2 linked regions of the Homo sapiens genome follow. The protein of the gene in region 2 interacts with the protein of the main gene of each other region in a biochemical or structural test. Each region holds a gene or a part of one and is shown on either strand. Other genes may lie near its edges.

The links. Proteins that work in one complex are often made in the same cells at the same time.
Region 1: the proteins of MPDZ (region 2) and OR1D2 interact in a test that uses a peptide from one of them, tested with the Homo sapiens proteins (one study listed by IntAct).

What each region holds. Positions count from the first base shown.
Region 1 is NC_000017.11:3,101,399-3,108,536, reverse strand, and holds the start of OR1D2 (olfactory receptor 1D2), read left to right. Parts: upstream 1-4,114; 5' UTR 4,115-4,438; intron 4,439-7,138. UniProt on the Homo sapiens protein: Odorant receptor which may be involved in sperm chemotaxis. Bourgeonal is a strong chemoattractant for sperm in vitro and is shown to be a strong agonist for OR1D2 in vitro. May also function in olfactory reception.
Region 2 is NC_000009.12:13,269,692-13,276,719, reverse strand, and holds part of MPDZ (multiple PDZ domain protein), read left to right. Parts: exon of another isoform or gene 1-146; intron 147-7,028. UniProt on the Homo sapiens protein: Member of the NMDAR signaling complex that may play a role in control of AMPAR potentiation and synaptic plasticity in excitatory synapses. Promotes clustering of HT2RC at the cell surface.

The DNA of each region.
Region 1 (7,138 bases), on a different chromosome or scaffold from region 2:
AAAGAGGAAAAGAAGAACCATCTCTGGTAGAGGTAACAACACTTGAAGCCACTGTAACCCTAGTATCCATGACTCCCAGCACATACTAAAAAAATTACTACACACAGGCAAGAGGCAAAATTACATGCCTAATAATTAAGACCAAAAAATAAAGATTGAAAGATGACTCTGATCTTAGAGGTGGCAGACAAGGAATTTAAGATAACAATTAGTATGTGAAATAGATAAAAAGATGAATAATTTTACTAGCAAATAGCATAAAGAGCACAATGGACATTCTGGATGTGAACACTACAGTATCTGAAATTAAGAACTCAGTGCATGAATTTAACAAGTTGGACATAGCAAGATACAGAATCAATAAACTAGAAGACAAGTCAATATAAAATACCTAAACTGAAGTGCAAAAAAAATTAAAGGAAGAAACCCCAGATACAGCCATAAGAGATAAATGGAACATGCACAGAAGGCCTAATTATGTATCACTGGAGTCCCAGAAGGACAGGAGAAAGAGAATGGAACAGGGTCATATATTTGAGAAGATAATTAACCAAGAATTTTTCAAACAGATAAAAGACATAACACTACAGGTTGAAGGAGCTCAGCAAATCTCAAGCAGTATAAATCGAGAGAAAACCAAACATAGGCATATTGGAGAAAACTACTGAAACCAAATATAAACGAAAACCCTAAAAGCTGTTGAGGAACAGGACAGGGTCTCAATACCTTCAAACAGCATATCTTAATCCATTCAGGCTGCTATAACAAAATAGTATAGAGTGAGTGACATACATAACAGAAATTTATTTCTCACAGTTCTGTCTGGAGGCTGGGAAGTTCAAGATCCATTTGCCAGAAGATTCCGTGTCTGGTGAGTACCCACTTCCTGATTCACAGATGGCCATCTTTTTGCTGCGTCTTTACATGTCAGAAGGGGACAAGGGAGCTCTCTGGAGTCTCTTTTAAAAGGACACGAATTCCAGCCAGGTGCAGTGGCTCATGCCTGTAATCCTAGCACTTTGGGAGGCTGAGGCAGGTGGATCACTTGAGGCCAGGAGTTCAAGACCAGCCTGGCCAACATAGTGAAACCCCGTCTCTACTAAAAATACAAAAATTAGCTGGGCATGCTGGCACATGCCTATAATTCCAGCTACCCAGGAGGCTTATGCAGGAAAATTGCTTGAACCCGGGAGGTGGAGGTTGCAGTGAGTTAAGATCACGCCATTCACTACACTCCAGCCTGGGCTGTGTCAAAAAAAGAAAAAAAGGAAATACTGAAGAAGAAGAACAAGCAAACCATATAGCAATCCTATTAGAAGATATAATAATTAATATGTAGACTATTGATATAAGGATAGGCAAACTGACAAATGGAAGAGATTAAGATTCCAGAAACAGATTCATATATATAGTCACCAGACTGATGATAAAGATTTCCACTGTGATGGAGCAGGGAAAGGACGGCTTTTCTCCAAATGGCACTGGATCCGTTGAATATCCACACTTCAGGAAGAAAAATGTATGTTGATCTCTACCTCACCAAATATAAATATCAATTCCACATTGATCACAGATCTAAATGTGAAAGGTAAAAGCAAATCTTCCTGATGAAATCATAGAGAACATGACAAAAATTTAGCAAAGATTTCTTAAGATATAGACAGCACTAATTATTTAACAATTGATAAATTAAAACATTAAAACTCTTCTATTTCTCTAACGGCACCATTAATTGAACAAAAGCCAACCCACAAAGGTGGGTAAGATAGTCTTGTTACAAACATCTGACAAAGGCTCATAGCCAGAAAATATGAAGAATTACAAATCAACATTTAAAAAAAACCAGATAACCCAATAGAAAAAAATGAGAAGAACACTTGAGTAGGTGATTTACAAAGACAATATACTTTTGGATAATAACTCTATGAAAAGTGCTTAACTTCATTAGTCATCAGAGAAATGTAAATGGAAATCAGCAATTCTACTCTTGGACATATATTCAAAAGAAAAGAAATCAATGTATCGAGGAGATATCTACACTTCCACGTTTACTGCATCACTATTCACAATGGCCAAAATATGGAATCAACCCAAATGCCCATCAAAGGATGAATGAAGAAAGAAAATATGGCATATATACGCAGTGGAATATTATCCAGCCAAAAAAAAAATGAAATCCTGTCCTTTGCAGCAACATAGATGAAACTAGAAGTCATTATGTTCGGTGAAATAAGTCAAGCACAGAAACACAAATATTATATGTTGTCACTCAACATGTGAAAGTTTAAAAAGTGGATCCCATGATGATAAACGAGCAGACTGGTGGTCACCAGAGGCCAGGAAGAGTGAGGGGAGGGGGAGGAAGAAATGTTGATTAATAGGTACAAAAGTACAGTTTGATAGAAGCAGTAAGACTGAATATAGTTTACAATCATCTATTGTATATTTCAAAATAGTAAAAGGGGAACAATTCAGATGTTTCTAGCATAAAAAAAGACAACTATTTAAAGTGATATATATCCCAATTACACCAATTTGATCTTGACAAATTTTATGAAGATATTAAATTATCACATGTACCTCTATTATGTATCTTTTTTTAAAAAAAAAAAAATTCAACCATGGCGAGATACCGCTATACTCACCACAACAGCTAAAATGAAAAGGATGAAAAATACCAAATCATGTTAAGGTATTGAGCAACTAGAACTCTCATACACTGCTGGCAGTAGGGAAAATTGATACAAGTCTAGTACTTTGGAAAAGTGTTTAGCACTGGCTACAAAAACTATACATAGGCCTGCCATGTGATTTATAAATTCCACTCTTAAGTATATATGCCTAAGAGATATGCGTAGCTACACGACTCAGGACAAAAACCGGAAACTACTAATGCCCACAATGGGTGTTTAGTGGTCTCTTCACACAATAGAACACCATACAGCAATGAGCATGAACAACCTACAACCACATACAACTGTGTGGATGAATCTGACATATACAATGAGTGAAAAACGCCAACACAAAAGAGTACAAACTGTATACTTCCATTTAAATAAAGTAAGAAAATAGATAAAGCTAGCTTAATGATATTAGCAGTTAGGATAGTGAGTACCTGTGCAGGAACAGTGACTAGAAAGGAATATTTGGTCATTTCTGGAGGGTCAGTAATGTGTTTTTCATCTGAGTGCTGGTTACTCATGACTGGCCTGTTTGTAAACATTCCTGATAAAATTTTCAGGCTTCATTTTATTTCCTAAAATAATGTAGCATCATTATTTTTCCATCTATGTCTAATAACTATATTATCTAGAGTCCCTATATGCCTCCCCTGTGTTGGTTCTTGCTATTGGAATCTTCCTTGTGTCTTTTTATCTTTGGGTTTATGTTGGATATTGTGCTTGAAAAATTATTAACAGAAATAATTCTGTTATTTCAGCTCTAAGGTGACATTATGTTCCTCTAAATAGGATTTCTTTCTTGCTTTTGCTTAGTACTTTGGGTCACAGACATCTGGAATCATTCTAGTTGAAGTTTAGTACCTTAAATTTGCCAGACCTCTCCCTACTCAAAGTCAACAGGCAATACATGTAGAGTCCGCTTTATTTTTGGCTTACTGTTACTTTGGCTTACTGTTATATGTATTTTATCTTTTATTTTTTTTTTTTTCAGATGGAGTCTCACTCTGTTGCCCAGGCTGGAGTGCAGTGGTGCCATCTCGGCTCACTGCAACCTCCACCTCCCAGGTTGAAGCGATCCTCCTGCCTCAGTCTCCCAAGCATCTGGGACAACAGGTAAGTGCCAGCACGCCCAACTAATTTTTGTATTTTTAGTAGAGATGGGGGTTTCACCATGTTGGCCAAGATGGTCATGAACTCCTGACCTCAGGTGATCTGCCTGCCTCGGCCTCCCAAATGCTGGGATTTCAGGTGTGAGCCACCACACCCAGCCTTCCTAGGGTATATTTTAGGATTACTGCACAATAAGGAGCTGGTTTATTTCTTGTAAACAAGACTCATTTCCCAAGACCCTCACCTCTAGAGAATAACATCGGAGCAATTATCCATGTTCATCTCAAGAGGCTATCTGGGGATTGCATCCCCAAGTTCTCTCCAAAATGGATAAGCAGACCTGATGTGCTCCCTGTTCATCCCGTTTCTTCATGAATCTAGGATCCAAGACTCAGTTCTCATATCCCACAAATCTCATTGGGGCATCAATAGCCTGAAATCCTGTCTCCTTTTTTACAGAAGCTGAAGACCCAGGCAACAAGTTCTCTGCTCTGTACCTTTAGCCAATAGGATGAGTCTCCAAGACCTATTCAGAAAATAATGCATTCTGGTCTTTTATGACCTGAATGTGTTTTCATCCTGTAGAACAGGAACGTGGAGGAAGCTGAACCAGTGAACTCTGAGAGCAGCACAGAGCAGTGGGTAAGGTCTGTACATCTCAGCCTCATGCTCTTTCTCCCTCTTCTCTCTTATCTTCTCTCTTATCTTCTCTCTTCTCCATTTTCTCTGTCACACAAACATACTCACACACTTTGGGAACTCATGTAATCTCACCTCTTAGTCTTCAAAGGTAATAGAACAATCCCTTGAATCTTAGAAGCACTCTACAGTTTTCAAGGTACTTTCACATTCTCTGTTGCATGTAATTCTCACAGCCTGTGAGAATGACTACCTAGGTGAGAAGAGGGGATTTAGGCAGGTCGTGGGCCCTACTCAAGGTCATACAGCTAGGAAGTAACAGAAGAGGTACAAAGCCCAGTGTTTCCACTGCAAGCTTGGACCCCTTTTCCATATTGCCCCTACAATCTCCCCCCTCACACCCCAGCAACACAACAGAGGGGTCTGTGTCTCTGTGACCATCTGACCACATCAGTGTTCAGAACCCACTGACTCTTACAAACTCAGAGCAGTGTTTCCCAAAGTATAGCATCAGAACTACTGCATGCTTGCTAAAAAGAACTTGGTTCTCAGAAACAGGACTTCAAGAGAGACTTCAGGACTTCAAGAGAGAGAGTCAGAAAGTCAGAAAGTCAGCTTTTTGTTATGAAGCATCACAGGTGATCGTGATGCACATGAGTGCAGGAGATGCTTGCCTTGTGGGTTACAAAGCAGAGGTATCTGGCCAGATGCAATGGCTCACGCCTGTAATCCCAGATACTCAGGAGGCTGAGGCAGGAGAATGGCTTGAACCCGGGAGGTGGAGATTGCCGTGAGCCGAGATCGTGCCACTGCACTCCAACCTGGGCAGAGTGAGACTCCATTTCAAAAAAAAAGAAAGGAAAAGAAAGAAGAAAAAAGGAAGCAAGCAAGCAGAGGGATCAATTTCTCAATTTCCCTGGGAGTTCTCTGGCCTTCCTCAGTCTTGTCACCTGCCCTCTACCCTCCCTCCCATCAGCAGATGTCCCATAGAGCTCTGAATGGTAAGAACAAGACTGCAGAAAGAAGTCATTTGTGATGTGGGAAGCCTGTAATACCGTGTGCCCTCATCTTCTGTCTCCCCTGCAGTTGCACCATGAGGCCTGACACCAGGAGTCCCACCCTGACATCCTGGACCATTCCGGACAGACAGAGTGGGGTCCAGCTGCTCCTGTCTGAGAGGGCAGCAGAACCAGGATAGAGGCAAGACTGGGAACCCTGTTGCTCTTTGTACTGAGAGAGTGGGTTCCCTACTAGAAAGGGGTGGGAAATACAAGTTGGAGGAATGAAGAATAGGAGTCCCTTTGCCACCCCCATCACAGGCCCCTTCCAAGGACAATTAGGCTTTAAGTTTGGAGAGCTGCTTCCACATACAGCATTTCAGCTCTTTCTCCTGACCCCGGGGGAGGTGGGCATTATTGCTGTCCTCCATCCCATGGTAGAATAGTTAGATTGTGAAATCTGGAGGCAGAACGGGGGCTCAAATCCCAATGTGTCAGTTCTGATTGAGTGAATGTGAGAAACTCATTAACCTAAATCTCAGTCACCTCATCTATAAAGCAGGATAACAGAAACAAATAGCTCGTTGTTACAACGATATACGTCGTTGTAAATAAAAGATGTATATACATAGCACCGTAGGTATGTATGTATGTGTGTGTCTAATGAAATCGCAGTTTGTTCAAAAAATGCTTGAATTTGTTACGCTGGGGTTTGAACCCAAACTTCAGACTCAAAATCTCCTTCCACTATGCCACCTACCGTGGACATCTAGGAGTTTAACTTGCTACATTGAGGTAAGGAATTCACTCATTTGATGAATGCTAGGACTGCCATATACCCTCACCCCACCCCAAATCTGGCACTCCAAATTACTTTAATAGTCGAAATTACTCACAGTTCCCTCATCTCCATTTGCTTATTCTGCTGTGACTTCAAATTAACCATGTTTCAGATTGAATTTGCAGAACAGGCTCCATACTTCCCTGGCACACTGGCTGGTTTTCCAAAACATTGCAATAATATGTACAGTAATAATTAATATGTACAGTAATAACTGTACATATTTTGGGGGTACATGTGATATTTTGATACATGAATATAAGTGTAATCATCAAATCAGGATATTTAGGACAGTCATCACCTCAGACATTTATCATTTCATTGTGTTGGGAGCATTCTCTTTGTAGCAATTGTGAATGGAGGTTCATTCATGATTTGGCTCTCTGCTTGTCTATTGTTGGTGTAAAGGAATGCTTATAATTTTTGCACATTGATTTTGTAACCTGAGATTTTGCTGAAGTTGCTTATCGCTTAAGAAGTTTTGGGGTGGAAATGATGGGGTTTTCTAAATATAGAATCATGTCATCAGCAAACAGACAATTCGACTTCCTCTCTTCCTATTTGAATCCCCTTAATTTCTTTCTCTTGCCTGATTGCCCTGGCCAGAAATTCCAATACTATGTTGAGCAGGAGTGGTGAGACAGGGCATCCTTGCCTTGTACCGGTTTTCAAAGGGAATGCTTGCAGCTTTTGCTCATTCAATATGATATTGGCTGTGGGTTTGTCATAAATAGCTCTTATTTTGAGATACGTTCCATCAATACCTAGTTTATTGAGAGTTTTTAACATGAAGGGATGTTGAATTTTATCAAAATGCTTTTCTGCCTCTATTGAGATAATCGTATGGTTGTTGTCTTTGGTTTTCTTTA
Region 2 (7,028 bases):
CTGAATTTCATGAAATATTTTGAGGCAAAGTTGGACTGGAATGTCCCCAAATATGGTAGAGCAAATAGCACATCTGCCAGAGAAAGATCCTACACTTTAAAGAGAAGAAGCAGACAACTTCCTGGTGAATTTAGGACTGCTTGATGGTGCGTATGAGTGATGATATATGTCCAAAACAGTTGTATGTACTTTTGAAAATAGATATTTGGCCTAAAGTAGGATTTCATTTGATATTGTTACGTACATTATCAACCCCATATTTATAACAATAAAGGTTTCATTTTTTCTTGTAAATTAGTGTCATGCATAGGAGAGCATTTATATAAGTACAGTTCGGAAATGATATTTAGCATGGTAAAATTGATATACTGTGATTAAATAATTTTAGTGGGATTCCATGTGGGAGAATAAGACTAAGGAGGTAAATAACTACTTCTCGATAAAGGAAACCAGTGGTGAGGAATCCATTGCCTTCCTGTGATACGTTTCCAGAGAAGATCCGAGGTATTCATGTAGTAGGTAGTAATAGATGGATTAGGAAGAATGTTGTATTGGGTTAGGCATTGGGGAGAGTACAGAATAAACATGATTCTGCTCCAGAAGTGTAGGGTCTTAGTTGGAGGAATCTAATGGGAGAAATAACAGAAAGGTTTTACATGTTAAAAATGTTACAGGGATTCTAGGAAAGTAGTGAAGTATAGGGATTAGTTGCTCTTATCATTGAGGTTAGTAAATAAGACACAGAAAGGCTTTGGTCTTGAGATGAGAGGGTGGAAATGAAAGTTTTTTTGATATGAAGTAGAGCTTAAGTCAGTGGTTTTCCCTTGAAAATGGACATGTATAGAAGAGGCTGGGATGTGAGTGGGCAGTGGGTACTGGAGAGCATATTCAATTTGTATATTTCTGGAGTGGAATAGAGGATTTGTGCCCAGGGGAAAAGGTTGGATAGGGAAGAGCAATTAATGGAGAGCAATGAAGTATAGGCTGACTTTTATCTCTTGAAGTTTCCACTTTCCAATAACCCAAGTCACATTTCCTTCTGAGAGTTAACCTCTTCAGTGCAATCTGGGCTTTTTCTAACATGCACCCTAAAACGTTTGTAGCCATTACCTATTACCCAGTTCCAAAGCCACTTCCACATTTTTGGTGTTTGTTACAGCAGCACCCCATTTCCTGGTACCAAAATCTGTATTAGTTTGATAGGGCTGCCTTGACAAAATAACACAGAGTGGGTGGCTGAAACCACAGGAATTTATTTCCTCACAGTTCTGGAGGCTGGAAGTCTAAAATCAAAGTGTTGGTGGGATTGGTTTCTACCAAGCCTCGCTCTTTGGCTTGTAGATGGCTGAGTTCTCCCTGTTTCTTCACATGCCCTCCCTCTGTGTATGTCTATAGCCTAATTTTTTATAAGGGAACCAGTCATATTGTGTTAGAGCCCACCCCTAGTGACCTCATTTAACCTTTATCTCCAAATACAGTTATATTGTGAGGTACAGGGATTAGGATTTCCTGTGAATTTTTAGGAGACACAGTTTAGCTCATAACAAGGTTCTCAAAGAGACTTAGTGTGTAAACTAGTGAGACTCTGAGGCAGTGAGCTCGTATTGGAGGCTAGTGCATAGTCTGAGCATTACTGGGGTAATTTGATGTTTGGCAAGAAAGGGAAGCTGCTATTTGAGGACAAAGGTATTTTATCTTTGGCCTGAGGCCACTTATTTTCTTTCTCTGGATGTTCATTGGGAAATTGTGCCTCTGTGGCCTTTTTGTGGACAGAGCATTAATTTTTTTTTTAAGTGTTTTATAAAAGCATTCGTTTTCTTAAAATATTTCTTTTAATGGTTCTTAAAAATAGTAAAGCGCTAAATTTGGCAAAGCTGAAACACTGTGTTGTAAATGTCTCAGTGGTTTTTGAGTCTGATTAAAACAACAGAATTTATTCTTTAAATTCCATTGATCTAAAAACTGTCTGTCTTATACGTGTTTTGTGGGGTAATGTATGGCATAATCTTTTTTCCTTCAGAAATGTTTCCCCCTTTTGGGAAAATATGATTAATAAAAGGGAATTTATGTTACATAAAATAAAAACTTTTTTTTTTTTTTGTTTTTTAGGTGTTGCAATTTTATTTGTTGAGTTAATGAAACCATTAGAGCCATTCTTCCCAATCTGGCCAGCTAAGTTAAAAATAAATAAATAAATAAAAGGAGACAAACTCTTACTTTTTTTCTTCTGGCCTGTCTGCCTGTGGTGGTTAAATTTGTTTTGTTTAGGGAATTCTTATCTTTATCCACTTTTTAGTTTTATTTGTGTCTGCAAAAGCAACATTCATTGTTATTTTCTTGTAAACCACTCTGCCTCCAGATCCAAGGTGCTATAAATAAGTGCATGAGGGGAAAGTGAAAAATGAAACATTTATTAAAAAAGAAGAAAAAAAACCCAGTAACATCAACTACCAAAAAAAAAAATTAAGAAAAAACTTAATGTTGTTGCTTATGTTTTAAAATTATTTTGATAATAAAATACATAAGGTAATTATTTATTTTAGTAAATAGCACATTTTAAAAGGTATGGAAGATACAAGTGAAAAGAAGACGGAAAGCTTGCCTGTAATTAGATCACCCAGATACCACTCCCACAAGAAAATCCCCAAGACACATATTTTGAAAATGAAGATATTTAAGTTATTTTGATATAACAAATGGATAGAGCAGCTGTTGATCAATAGATTTCACCAATTGCTGCCTTTCTAAATGAGCATCATCTGATCTGAGATTATTAAATGTTATATAATTTGAGTTGATACTAATAGCATTTGTTTGAACTGATGTCTCAGGTCTTTTGAAGAGATATGATACAGTTCACTACCACGTGGCATGTAGGATACCAGTGGAGAACGTATTTTAAAAAATTTTGATTTCTGCTTAAAATTAAGTGTTAATAGTCAATGTTTATACTGATTATATGTTGAAATAATAATTTGAAGAAAGTGGGTTAAATAAAATATATTATTAAAATTAATTTCACCTACTTCTGCTTTTTTCTTTACTGTGGCTACAGACAAAATTACATATGTGGCTCACATGATATTTCCATTGGCCAGAGCTGATCTAGAATGATGCAGATCATCCCCTCTCCAACTCTTGGTGTGTTTGATAATCTGAATTGTAACATATACAGAATGGCAATTATTTGAATAATTTCAGCACCAAATTACTCCTTTGTTAACCAATTCACTATATTGTTAATTTCACAGTAACTTTATATTGTGTACTCAGGTGGCTCCATAGGATACCTTGCTTCAGGGAACTGTCATAGAAAATGGTCATGAGAAGCTATCCTTCTGTGTTCATAAGATATCACTAACGTAACAAAACCATGATGATAGAGTCATAAAGATTAAAGATTATTCTACAATTTAAAAACTCCTTTCCGATATATTTAAGATATGTCCAGTTTCTCTTATACCTTGCTAGGCCCCTGTTTTAGTTCATTTCGGGTGCTATAACAAAATATCAAACACTGGGTCCCTTATAAACATACATTTATTTCTCATAGTTCTGGAGGCTGGGAAGTACCAGATCAAGGCACTGGCAGATTCTGTGAATGGTGAGGGCCTCATAGATGATGCCGTGTTGCTGTGTCTTCATATGGTATGGAAGGGGCAAGGCTGCTCTCTGGTACCTATTTTATAAGGGCACTAATCCCATTCATTAGAACTCTGCCCTTGTGATCTAATTGCCTCCCAAAGACCCCACCCCCTAATACCATTACTTTGGGGGTTAGGATGTCAACATATGAATTTGGGGGGAATATAAACATTCAGACCATAGCAGCCCCCTTAATAGGTCTTGCTTTGTCTAAGGCATTACTGGGTAAATTTCATAAAGCTTATGTATTTCCTCCTCGGCTTCTCACTCCCCACAAGTGTCCCAGGGTATTGCATTTTAATAAGTCAGGCCTGAATCCACTTCTGGACAGCATTCATTTTCTTTTGTTCTTCTTTTTTTTTTTTTTTTTTTTTAGTAGGAACAGAGTTTCACCATGTTAGCCTGGCTGGTCTTGAACGCCTGACCTCAGGTCAGGTGATCTCCCCGCCTCAGCCTCCAAAAGTGTTGGGATTACAGGAGTGAGCCACCACGCTCGGCCTCATTTTCTAATTTGGGATTACAGGGGCCTCATCGATATGATTCAGTGGAGTGTTGTCTGACCCTTCCAACCCTTTCCCATCACATTCACAGTTTTCTGGGCTAGGAAATGCAGTTATCCTATGCTGTTTTACAAAACTATAGCATTGGAATGGCTCTTCATTCTGATTTAATCTATTGAATATATATCGGGTTAGACTAAGTCACAAAGTATTTTTAGCTCTTTGGCTGAGGGAGGAAAATGAGAAGAAATAGCCCTGGGGCCTGGGTTATTGCTCCCTAGCTAGCTTCATTAAGATGTTCAGTGAACATCTGTTGGATGCTAAAGTCAACCTATTCAGCCCCTATCCTTTTCTCAAGGAGGTGGGAGGGAGTGTTTAACTGTTTTATTGTGGTATAAGTTATAATTGTTTAACTGTTTTATTGTGGTATAAGTCATAATTGACAATAAACTACACATATTGAGAGTGTACAATTTGTTGAATTTTGGCTGTTTTGAAGCTATCCCCCACAATCAAGATAGTGAACATATCCATCACCCCCGAAAGTTTCCTCATGCATCTTGGTAGTCCTTTCCTCTACCCACCCCTCCCATCTCCAAGTAAACTACTCATTTGCTTTATGTCACTGTAGATTAGTTTGCGTTCTCTAGAGCTTTAAATACATGGAATCATACAGTATGTTCTCTTTTGTCTGACTTCTTTCACTATGTGATTATTTTGGGATTCATCCATGTTGCCTGTATTCATAGTTCAGTACTGGTCATTGCTGAGTAGTAGTCATTGCATGGATATACCATTAAAGAGTTTTTAAGTCATTTAGAACTCTCCTGCACTTCCGTTGTCTTATGGTGCGTATTCATTCTTGGTTTTGTGAGGGAGGAAAAATTTTACTCTTTGAGGTTCTATAAGTGAGGCCTGTGAATTAAAACTAACAGAACACAGATTAACATTTAATTGATGTTTTTAATTTCATATTCATGGGGGCTACGCAGAAAAGAAGAGACCCAAAGAAGAGGATAGATTTGGGGTTTTTGCATCATTTTCATGATAAAAGTTGTTCTCACTGGTAAGGGAGAGATGATCATCTTTACAAACGGACATTTCTGTCACATTTACAAAGGGAATTTTGTGTTCTACTTTTACACAGAAAGGGCCAGGGGAGAGAGTGCTCCTGTCTTCCGTTTCCTATTTGCCTTCAGTTCAAAATAATACTGATGCCAAAGTAGCATATTTTGGAGTGGCATGTTCTGATCCCCTTTGGATTCAACTGTGTGAGTCCGACTTTTGTATTTGATGGTGTTTCTCAGTCTTCTTAAATTCATGCCCCATTTTGATAAACATAACATAGAAAATTTAAAGGCCCTTATTTAAATGTTGGAGCTACAAAATATGTAAGTCAATAGTTTAAAAAATACTACCGGTAATTGTAAAAAAGATTTAAAAATATTTAATTTTGAAAGATAGGAGATGATTAAGTAAAAAGTCAGGAGATTATTGAGGCTTTCCATAAACTTTTGTATCCTACCGTATGAAGAGTTTAAGCACAGCACAGTAGTTTCAGTATTGAACCCAATGCTTTATTTTGACTGCTTGCTAAATATTCCTCACCCACTTGCATGTTTTCTGTAATTCTTACCATGTTTGATAGATCTGTCACTCCTGTGACAAATGTATATGACAGTCATATAGTGAATTGGATAACAAAGGAGTAATTTGGTGCTGAAATTATTCAAATAATTGCCATTCTGTATATGTTACAATTCAGATCATCAAACACCCCAAGAGTTGGAGAGGGGAAGATCTGCATCATTCTAGATCAGCTCTGGCCAATGGAAATATCATGTGAGCCACATATGTAATTTTAAGTTGTCTGTAGCCACAGTGAAGAAAAAAGCAGAAGTAGGTGAAATTAATTTTAATAATATATTTTGTTTAACCCAGTTTCTTCAAATTATTCTTTCAAAATATAATCAGTGTAAACATTGTTGAGATATTTTACTTTCTTAAAAAAAAAAAAAAGCTCTCCAAAATATGCCATGTCTTTTACCCATGTCTTTTATCATATTGCCTTTAGAACTAGCCAAGGTGTAAGTGCCCAGTAGTGTGTTTCAGTGTGGCTCCTGGCTACTGTGTTGGTCAACACAGCTTTAGCTCATGCAGCTAAGCTATAAGGTCAGATGAAATCAAGAAATAAGATGTCTTCATTCTGTTATGAAAACCTGTTATGTTGGCTGGAACCACTCAGCCTTTTTTGGGTCATTTGTAATGTTTATATATTGTCTGTACCTTCTGATCACTTAATTGAAGTGACGAACAAAATAAATAAAACAACATTTAAAGCAGATGTCCTTTCTGGATTATTACGAAAGTAAAAGTTGGTTTGTGCTCTTAATATTAATGTTTAGTCTTTTGAGTGCCAGAGTAAAAAGCAGTTAATGGAGGCATTTAAATAGTAGATGAGTTAATTAAGAAGCAAATAGTCACGTTCATTGAAAGAATAAGCCCTTTTAAAATGCTTTCATGGAGAAAATATCACTTGTCAAGATAACCCCAATGAATCCTATAGAATTACATATGGTAACTAAATAGTGTAGCTTGTTACATTATCTGTGAATTAGTAATTAGGAGATCGAATTGCTGCATGCTTATTTATCTTATATGGCTAAGGTACGTGTTCAGATAGGTTCATAGTAATTTGGATTTCTTCATGCAATTTTCCCTTATCTGAACTACCTGGAATCTTGCCAGCAAGATGTAAATTGTCATTTCTTGCTGAATTTTCTTAGTGTATTCTCAGCAGTGTGGACTACCAATGACTGACAAGCTTATCAGCGGATTTAGACAGTAACATCTCTTTGCTGGCAGAGGACTACAGGGTTCTCT